Regions from separate parts of the Homo sapiens genome. Here regions 2 and 3 are each linked to region 1. Evidence: fine-mapped expression QTL. A gene starts in region 1. Each other region holds a variant in brackets. All regions are shown on one strand. Distances are from middle to middle. Region 1 holds the start of RALY (RALY heterogeneous nuclear ribonucleoprotein). Region 2 overlaps PIGU (phosphatidylinositol glycan anchor biosynthesis class U). Region 3 has its middle 11 kb from the start of EIF2S2.

Region 1 (2,755 bases):
CAGACGTACCAGACTCCAAAGAACTAATGTGAACATCAAGAGACTCCTCAAGACCTGGCCCAGAAACTCCCTTGCCTGATTTTTAGACACTCCCTCCAACCGGATCACATTGAAAAACTGGAACATTTGCCAAAGTTAATTTTAGTTCACTTTAACCACTCTGGGCCTTATCTGAAAATAGGAGTAATATTTGTTTGAAGGCAGATGACTTGAGCTACTCCCCCTAACCCCCATCAAACTAGGATCGATAAATCTAAACACAGAGAACCTGCAAGGTCTGGGAGGAGGAACACACCACACACAAACTAAAGGGTGGATCCCACCGTTTACAGTCTCAAAGCTTCCTTGAGCCAAAACCCCAGGGAATTTGAGTTGTGTCTGAGACCTGGAGTCTGCATCCATCAACTTCTAACTGCCGCAACACTAGCAAGGAATTCATCCAAACCTTTCCCTTTAGAACTATGGTAACCCCAGAATGGGATTTCATCCACAGTATAGTGGACAACGGCCCAGAAGTCAGGGAAAACCCAGAGTTATGCCCCTAATTAAATGGTGTGACCCAAGGCTAGGTAAAAATACCCTCTGCACTAAGAGATGATACATGCTCACACCAGGAAATATTAATAAATAATAGGTACTGGCACCACTCCTTTGCACTTCTGTGGCTACTGTGACTTGGAGAAAATTACTTGACCCCTCTGCGCCTTAATTTCTGCTTTTGTAAATGAGGATAAACCAGAAGGCCGTTGTGAACATTAAATGAAATAAGGCTTGGGAAGTTCCTGGGTGAAGTCTCATTAAATGTTCCCTGTCGGTGTTAAACACTTCTTTCACATATTAGTTCCCTCCCTGAATCCACGAACACCCCGCAAAGCGAGTTTCCTTCTTTCCCCCCATGTCACCGAGAGGCAAACTAAGACTCGGCCGCCAAGGAGGCTGAGTGAAACGCGGATACGGCCCCAGTTCGAGGGCCCGTTGTTGTTTCTCTCCGAGCCCAAGGCGTGCAAAGAGCCCAGAAGAGGCGGGAGCCGAGGCAGGACAAGCTCTGCGCGCCTCCGGGAGCCCGTAGACCCAGTCCGGGTTAGGAGAGCCGGAAGCAGCCGCGGCCGGGCCCGCCTGCGGCCTCCCCGGAGCAGCCTCCGTTCCCCTCCCTCCGCCCCTCGCCGGGCGGGGCGGGGCACGAGCACAAAAGACTCCAACTTCCGAGCGGGCGCGGGCCCACCCAGCCAACTACTGGCCCAGACTTGGCCCGCGGAGAGAGCAGACAGGGAACGCCGGGAGCAGGACCGGGCGCGGAGGGCTGGGGCCGGGGACCCGGGGCGGCGGGTCCGAGTGGGAGAAAGGAGCGGCGGAGGGGGCCTAGAGTTACTCGGGCTCCCGGGACTCCCCGAAGGGCAGAAATAAGTTTCTAAAAATAGGCAGCGGCCTGCCGGAAGAAGTGAGTGAACGGAAAGGCACAAAGCACACACCCTCCCCGCACCCCTAAGGAGACGCCCGCAGTCCCCACTCACCCGCGCCGAGAGGTCTGGAGGAAGCCGCGCGGCTGGGAAGGAGGCGGTACTGCCGCACTCGGGGACGTAAGGGAGGGAGGAAAAGGGCGGCTGCGGCGGGAAGAGGCTGGGCACACGCGCGGGAGTCGTCGTCGTCGCCGTCGCCGCCGCTACCGCCCCCTCAGCTTCTCTGGGTTCCGCTGCCCCGAGCTGGCGCCGCTCGCGCGCCCCGCCGCACTGACAGCGGCGCGAGCCCCGCAACCGCGAGCCCTGCCCTCGGCCGGCACCACTGAGGCGCGCGGGGGTGGGGGCACCCGGAGCGGCTCCCCGCAGCTCGGCTCCGCCCGCCGCTCCGGCCCTGGTTCCGGGCTCTCCTCCTTCTCTGTCTCCTGGGAAGGACACGGTGACACGAGCACGAGGAGTCTGCAGCCCCGCCCAGAAACAGCCCGGCTTCCCAGGCGCATGGGCTCTCCCCACCCTCTCAGCCTGGCTTTGGAAAGGTCCAGAGCTTCGGCGGGGACGGGAGGAAGGCGGGGCCAGGGTGGGGCCTGAAAGGGAGGAGGGACTGAGACGCGGCTTGGGGAGGCGGGGCTGGGGCGGGAAGAGGGCAGCTTGCACAGGTTTGGAGCCGAAGTAGGGGCGGAGCTAAGATGGTGATGAGGCCCTGGGAAGAGGGTCGCCGGACCAGTGGGGAAGGCCGTGCAGGAGATGGAGAGCCGGGAACCAGGACAGCGCTTGAAAGGAGATGCTGTGGGCGGGGCTAAATGGAGAATCGCCCAGAGGGCGGAGCCACGGGTGGAGGGAGGCGGGGCTGAAGAGAAGCTTAGAGTGGGAGGAAGATGGAAGCGGGCCTGAAGGAGGCGGGCCCGGAAGCAGGGAGGGGAGGAGGGGCCCCGGGGGTGGCTACTCTGGGCGGGTGCCGGAAGGAGGCGTGCCCCAAGGAAGGACTGAGGGGTGGTGCTTGAGGTGGGCGGGGCCTGGAGATGGCGCTCAAATCTGCAGGCTGTGGGCGGTGCAGGAGGGATCCGGAAGAGACGAGGCAGGAAGAAACTCCTGGTCCTTTCGCTTTTAAGGAACGTGCCACCTAGACAAGGTGAGGGTCGCTCTTCGCTGCCTAATCTGGGACTGGGCGGAGAGGCCGCGCTAAGGGTGATCTCCGAAAAAGATGCAGGAGATGTTTTATAACTTGATCCAGGTGCTAGTCCTCTCTCCTACACATTTCTCCTGTCGGGATTTCTCACTTTCAGTGTTCCAGCCTCCGGTGA
Region 2 (2,755 bases), 660 kb before region 1:
CAAAACCGCCATTGTCATCCTGGCCCGTTCTCAATGAGCTGTTGGGTACACCTCCAAGACTGGGTGGTGGCTGGGCAGAGGGGCTCCTCACTTCCCAGTAGGGGCAGCCGGGCAGAGGCGCCCCTCACCTCCCGGACGGGGCGGCTGGCCGGGCCGGGGGCTGACCCCCCCACCTCCCTCCCGGACCGGGCGGCTGGCCGGGCAGAGGGGCTCCTCACTTCCCAGTAGGGGCGGCCGGGCAGAGGCGCCCCTCACCTCCCGGACGGGGCGGCTGGCCGGGCGGGGGGCTGACCCCCCCACCTCCCTCCCGGACGGGGTGGCTGGCCGGGCGGGGGGCTGACCCCCCCACCTCCCTCCCGGACGGGGCGGCTGGCCGGGCGGGGGGCTGACCCCCCCACCTCCCTCCTGGACGGGGCGGCTGGCCGGGCAGAGGGGCTCCTCACTTCCCAGTAGGGGCAGCCGGGCAGAGGCGCCCCTCACCTCCCGGACGGGGCGGCTGGCCGGGTGGGGGGCTGACCCCCCCACCTCCCTCCCGGACGGGGCAGCTGGCCGGGCAGAGGGGCTCCTCACTTCCCAGTAGGGGGTGGCCGGGCAGAGGCGCCCCTCACCTCCCGGACGGGGCGGCTGGCTGGGCGGGGGGCTGACCCCTCCGCCTCCCTCCCGGACGGGGCGGCTGGCCTGGCGGGGGTTGACCCCCACCTCCCTCCTGGACGGGGTGGCTGCCGGGCGGAGATGCTCCTCACTTCCCAGACGGGGTGGCTGCCGGGCGGAGGGGCTCCTCGCTTCTCAGACGGGGCGGCTGCCAGGCGGAGGGGCTCCTCACTTCTCAGACGGGGCGGCTGCCGGGCGGAGGGGCTCCTCACTTCTCAGACGGGGCGGTTGTCAGGCAGAGGGTCTCCTCACTTCTCAGACGGGGCGGCTGGGCAGAGACGCTCCTCACCTCCCAGATGGGGTCGCGGCTGGGCAGAGGCGCTCCTCACATCCCAGACGGGGCGGTGGGGCAGAGGCACTGCCCACATCTCAGACGATGGGCGGCCGGGCAGAGACGCTCCTCACTTCCTAGATGGGATGGCGGCTGGGCAGAGAGGCTCCTCACTTTCCAGACTGGGCAGCCAGGCAGAGGGGCTCCTCACATCCCAGATGATGGGCGGCCAGGCAGAGATGCTCCTCACTTCCCAGACGGGGTGGCGGCCGGGCAGAGGCTGCAATCTCGGCACTTTGGGAGGCCAAGGCAGGTGGCTGGGAGGTGGAGGTTGTAGCGAGCCGAGATCACGCCACTGCACTCCAGCCTGGGCACCACTGAGCACTGAGTGAACGAGACTCCGTCTGCAATCCCGGCACCTCGGGAGGCCGAGGTTGGCGGATCACTCGCGGTTAGGAGCTGGAGACCGGCCCGGCCAACACAGCGAAACCCCGTCTCCACCAAAAAAATACGAAAACCAGTCAGGCGTGGCGGCGCGCGCCTGCAATCGCAGGCACTGGGCAGGCTGAGGCAGGAGAATCAGGCAGGGAGGTTGCAGTGAGCCGAGATGGCAGCAGTACAGTCCAGCTTCGGCTCGGCATCAGAGGGAGACCGTGGAAAGAGAGGGAGAGGGAGAC[C/T]GTGGAAAGAGAGGGAGAGGGAGACCGTGGAGAGAGAGAGAGGGAGAGGGTGAGGGAGAGGGAGAGGGAGAGGTTATTTATTATTTATAACACAGTATAATTTTAAGTATAAAGCATTCCATTATATAGAGATATATATTATGTCATAATTCATTGAAATAAATTTTCATTAATGGACATTCAGATTATTTCTAATTGTTCAGTACTCTGAACAGTGTAAGGAACATACCTCTTTGGGTACTTGTCAGGTTATTTCCATAGGATAAACTGCCCTAAGAAGTATCATATCTGGGTCAGAAGGCACACACTTAGAAAGCACATATTGCCCTGTCGAAAAGTTAATACAAATGTCACTCAAATGAGCAGCATATGAGAGTGACTGCCCATTTCCTCACACTATGGCAACATTTCTCACCAGCTTCTAATTTGTTATCTTATTGTGCTTTGGAATGGGGAAGATTAGGCATAAATGAGACATTTTTGAGAGTTGGTAAGAGTTACAAGGAACTAAAAGGAAGCAGATAGTTTAACATAAAACTGTCTTATAATGAGTGCTGCCCACAATGAAAAAGGATGCTGTCCATGAAAGAGAGTTTCCCGTCATCAGAAATGTTCAAGACTTAAAGCCACTTGCTGGGGATGAGGTAAAGGGGGTTAGATAAACGCTAAGGCCCTTTTTGGTTGTGGGGGTATCTAACAATTTGGTCTGTAGCTGCCTGCTTAGTCTGAGTGAACTTGTATATCTAATTTTTCAGTGGTTGAAGGCCTTTCACTGTTGGACTTGGGAGTATCTCCGTATTCTGGAGCAGTATTTCATGAAGTAAGTGTTCTTATTTTCTTTTCTGGGTACCAAGAGTAGTTTACAGTCACAGATACCAAAGCCTAACCTCTGTTTTGTACAAACATTTAAAAAGATGTATTCTTGACGATCATATTTAGAAACAGCCCGTTTTTAGATGTCCTCTGCATAAGAAAGAGGTTTTGCAATTGCAATGGAAATGATCCAGATTAAGATTGTAACTGGGGAAGCAGATGAGGCTTCTGTAGAAGTTACCATTTGTAAAGGCAAATAAGTTGCAAACAGTCCTTAGTCCGCAAATAGGTTGTATGCTAATTAGCATGTAATTTGTTGTTTGGAATATGATTTCCCATGAAA
Region 3 (2,755 bases), 130 kb before region 1:
AGGTGTTTTGTTGGGGGACCTCAAATATCAGTATGTATAGATCTTTCCTCTGGGGTTAATTAATTAAAATTAATTCCCTGATATCTTGCCTGGAGAATACAAGCCTTGCTGTCAGCATTCCTGGAATAAATTTCAGCAGGAGGACTGAGTGCGCTTCACCATTCAGCATGTAGACAATTCATCTAATCTCTGTTTTCAGTCTGAAATCCTCCTACCTTAGCCTCCCTGCTATTATATCTTTAGCTGTGCCTGGTATCTCAGTGTCTGGAACTTCTCTACCTCAATTTTGTCCCAGGGGCTGCTAGGGAGATGAAAGGGTAGTTGTCTAAGTGAGTAGGATGGAGAAAAAGACCTGGCAGTTTCACTTCCTATAAAGGCTTTCAGCCAAACCCTCTCTCTTCTGCCTCTCACATCACCTCTGATCTGCTCTGTCCCAGTCCTGACATTCTAGTGTTCTGCAGTACGAATCTGTTTGTCCCTTGTTAGTATAACCCTCAGCAAACATTTAGAATTGTTTTCTCAGCTCAGCTATGGTTTTCCATCTTCCAAAAATTTGTTGATATCCTTAATCTGCTATTGATTTCTTTCTTATTCTCTTTGTCTGTAGACTGGTAAACCTAAAAATGTTAACTCACTGTCACTTCAGTGATTTGGGGAGTGAACAGGGATAAACATATGTGTTTAATCTGTCCAAGCATAAACAGAAGTGCAAGACTGTCAAGATGTCCACTCTTTGCTCCTATTAAAAAAAGTTAGAACCAGAAAATTCATAGATATGGCTGGGCGAGGTGGCTCACGCCTGTAATCCAGCACTTTGGGAGGCCAAGGCGAGTAGATCATGAGGTCAGGAGTTCAAGATCAGCCTGGCCAAGATGATATAACCCCATTTCTACTAAAAATACAAAAATTAGCCAGGCACAGTGGCAGGCGACTGTAATCCCTCCCAGCTACTTGGGAGGCTGAGGCAGAAGAATCGCTTGAAGCTGGGGGACAGAGGTTGCAGTGAGTCAAGATTGCACCACTGCACTCCAGCCTGGG[C/T]GACAGAGTAAGACTCCGTCTCCAAAAAAAAAAAAAAAAAAAAAAAGAAAATTCATAGGTAAAATATAGATAAAATTCTACTCTCATAGGCCAATGTGGAAAAAGTAGGAGTCTGAGAGTTGCGGTACATGTGTCCAAGCCCTGTTATTATCATTTACTGGTCTGAAGCTAGGTAAGTTAAATTTTCTGACCATCTGTTTCCTCATCTGTAAAGTGGTGATAATCATCCCTAGATAGTCTATCTTACTTGTAATGATGAAGTAAAATAATTGATATAAATATATAAACATCAAATATATATCATTTATCATAAACTCTATTAGAAGTAGGCACAGTTAAATATATTTTCAGAGGCACTGTAACATAGTAGAAATAATATGGGCTTCAGATTCACACAGACTTGGGCTCAAATTCCATCTCTGTTACTCACTGGGTTATGTTGGGTAAGTGACTGACACTCTCTGAGCCTTCATTAACCTGTTTATAAAATGGGTATAATACTTTTAACCTGACAAGGCTGTTGTTGAGTATTAAATGAGATAATGCATGTAACATCTATAGGGCCTGACACTTAGTAAGTACTCAACAGATATTAATTCTTCCATGTTGGCCCCTAATTTGAGACCAGCTTTTTTTTTTTTTTTCAGGCTTAATTCAGTTTGTTTTTCTTGTATAAAAACCCTATGCTGTAGCCACAGCTGGAGCCTGGGTCCTCTGCATGGAGACTCTGGTGTGGGTCTTGACGAGGTGGTCAGTGAATTCCTGATAGGGAGACTTGGTGAATATAGTCTCCTTCCAGAGGTCGAGGGTCAGGTAGCTGTAGGTCTTAGAGATGGTGTCAAAGGTGGCCTTGGCGAAGTTGCCAGGGTGGCAGTGCAGCCCCTGGCTGAGGTGTGGCAGTCATCAATACCAGCCATCATGAGGAGCTTCTTGGGCACAGGTGCGGAGACGATGCCAGTGCCCCTGGGTGCAGGGATGAGGTGCACCAGCACAGAGCCGCAGCGGCCTGTCACCTTGCAAGGGACGGTGTGGGCTTGTCCATCTTGTTCCCCCGTAGCCTCTGCGCACGGGGACAATGGAGTGCTTGGTCAGGATGACGGACCCGCGGATGGCAGTAGCCACCTCCTTGGAGCACTTAACGCACAGACCGACGTGGCCATTGTAGTCCCCGGTGGCAACAAACGCCTTGAACCTGGTGCGCTGGCCCGCGCGGGTCTGCTTCTGCACCGGCATAATCTTCAAACCCTCTTCCTTGAGAGAGGACCCCAGAAAAAAGTCAATGGTCTCAGATTCCTTGATGGGCAGGGAGAAGAGACATCCTCCAGGTACTTGATCTTCATGTCCTTGACCAGGTGGCCCAGCTTGGTGACGGGCATCTACTCCTTATCCTCGGCCTTGCCTCTGCGAGCTCCATGGCCTCGGCTCCGGCCCAGTCCACGGCCATGACCCTGGCCCCGGATGCCACCGCCGAAACCTCCGCGGAAGCCACCGCGGTTCCCCATCCCTCCCAGGGCTTGCGGGGGCCTCCGCCCGGCCTCCGCCCGGCCTCCACCCGACCTCCGCACCCCACGCCCTGCCGCCCCCTGCACAGGCGTCATCCGCCATTTGGGGATTTGTTGAAGAAGAGCTTTTTTATACTAACATGAAAATCCTGAGCTTGTATTTCATTAGTTCATGCTAAACTACATTGATAATTAGCATCTTAGATCATAAATAG

Evidence for each region. PIP is the estimated chance that this variant, and not a neighbour inherited with it, causes the effect.
Region 2: its variant is the best candidate, but not a certain one, in a credible set for the expression of RALY in whole blood (TOPMed, PIP 0.59).
Region 3: its variant is the best candidate, but not a certain one, in a credible set for the expression of RALY in whole blood (INTERVAL, PIP 0.51).

Annotation. Positions count from the first base shown.
Region 1 is chr20:33,992,888-33,995,642 of GRCh38, reverse strand. RALY (RALY heterogeneous nuclear ribonucleoprotein) reads right to left here and starts at 1,732. Exons shown (of 10, transcript NM_016732.3): 1 at 1,512-1,732. RALY-AS1 (RALY antisense RNA 1) reads left to right here and starts at 1,276. Exons shown (of 2, transcript NR_109886.1): 1 at 1,276-1,438; 2 at 2,738-2,755. RefSeq lists silencers at 1,012-1,341, 1,562-1,611, 1,672-1,801, 1,982-2,091, 2,262-2,511 and enhancers at 2,289-2,755, 2,752-2,755.
Region 2 is chr20:34,656,844-34,659,598 of GRCh38, reverse strand. PIGU (phosphatidylinositol glycan anchor biosynthesis class U) reads left to right here. Exons shown (of 12, transcript NM_080476.5): 2 at 2,355-2,419. Among named protein-coding and RNA genes, the nearest start is that of PIGU, 19 kb to the left of the region's middle. The variant C/T (reference allele first, on the strand shown) is at 1,600.
Region 3 is chr20:34,122,255-34,125,009 of GRCh38, reverse strand. It overlaps the pseudogene RPS2P1. Among named protein-coding and RNA genes, the nearest start is that of EIF2S2, 11 kb to the right of the region's middle. RefSeq lists a silencer at 247-316. The variant C/T (reference allele first, on the strand shown) is at 1,039.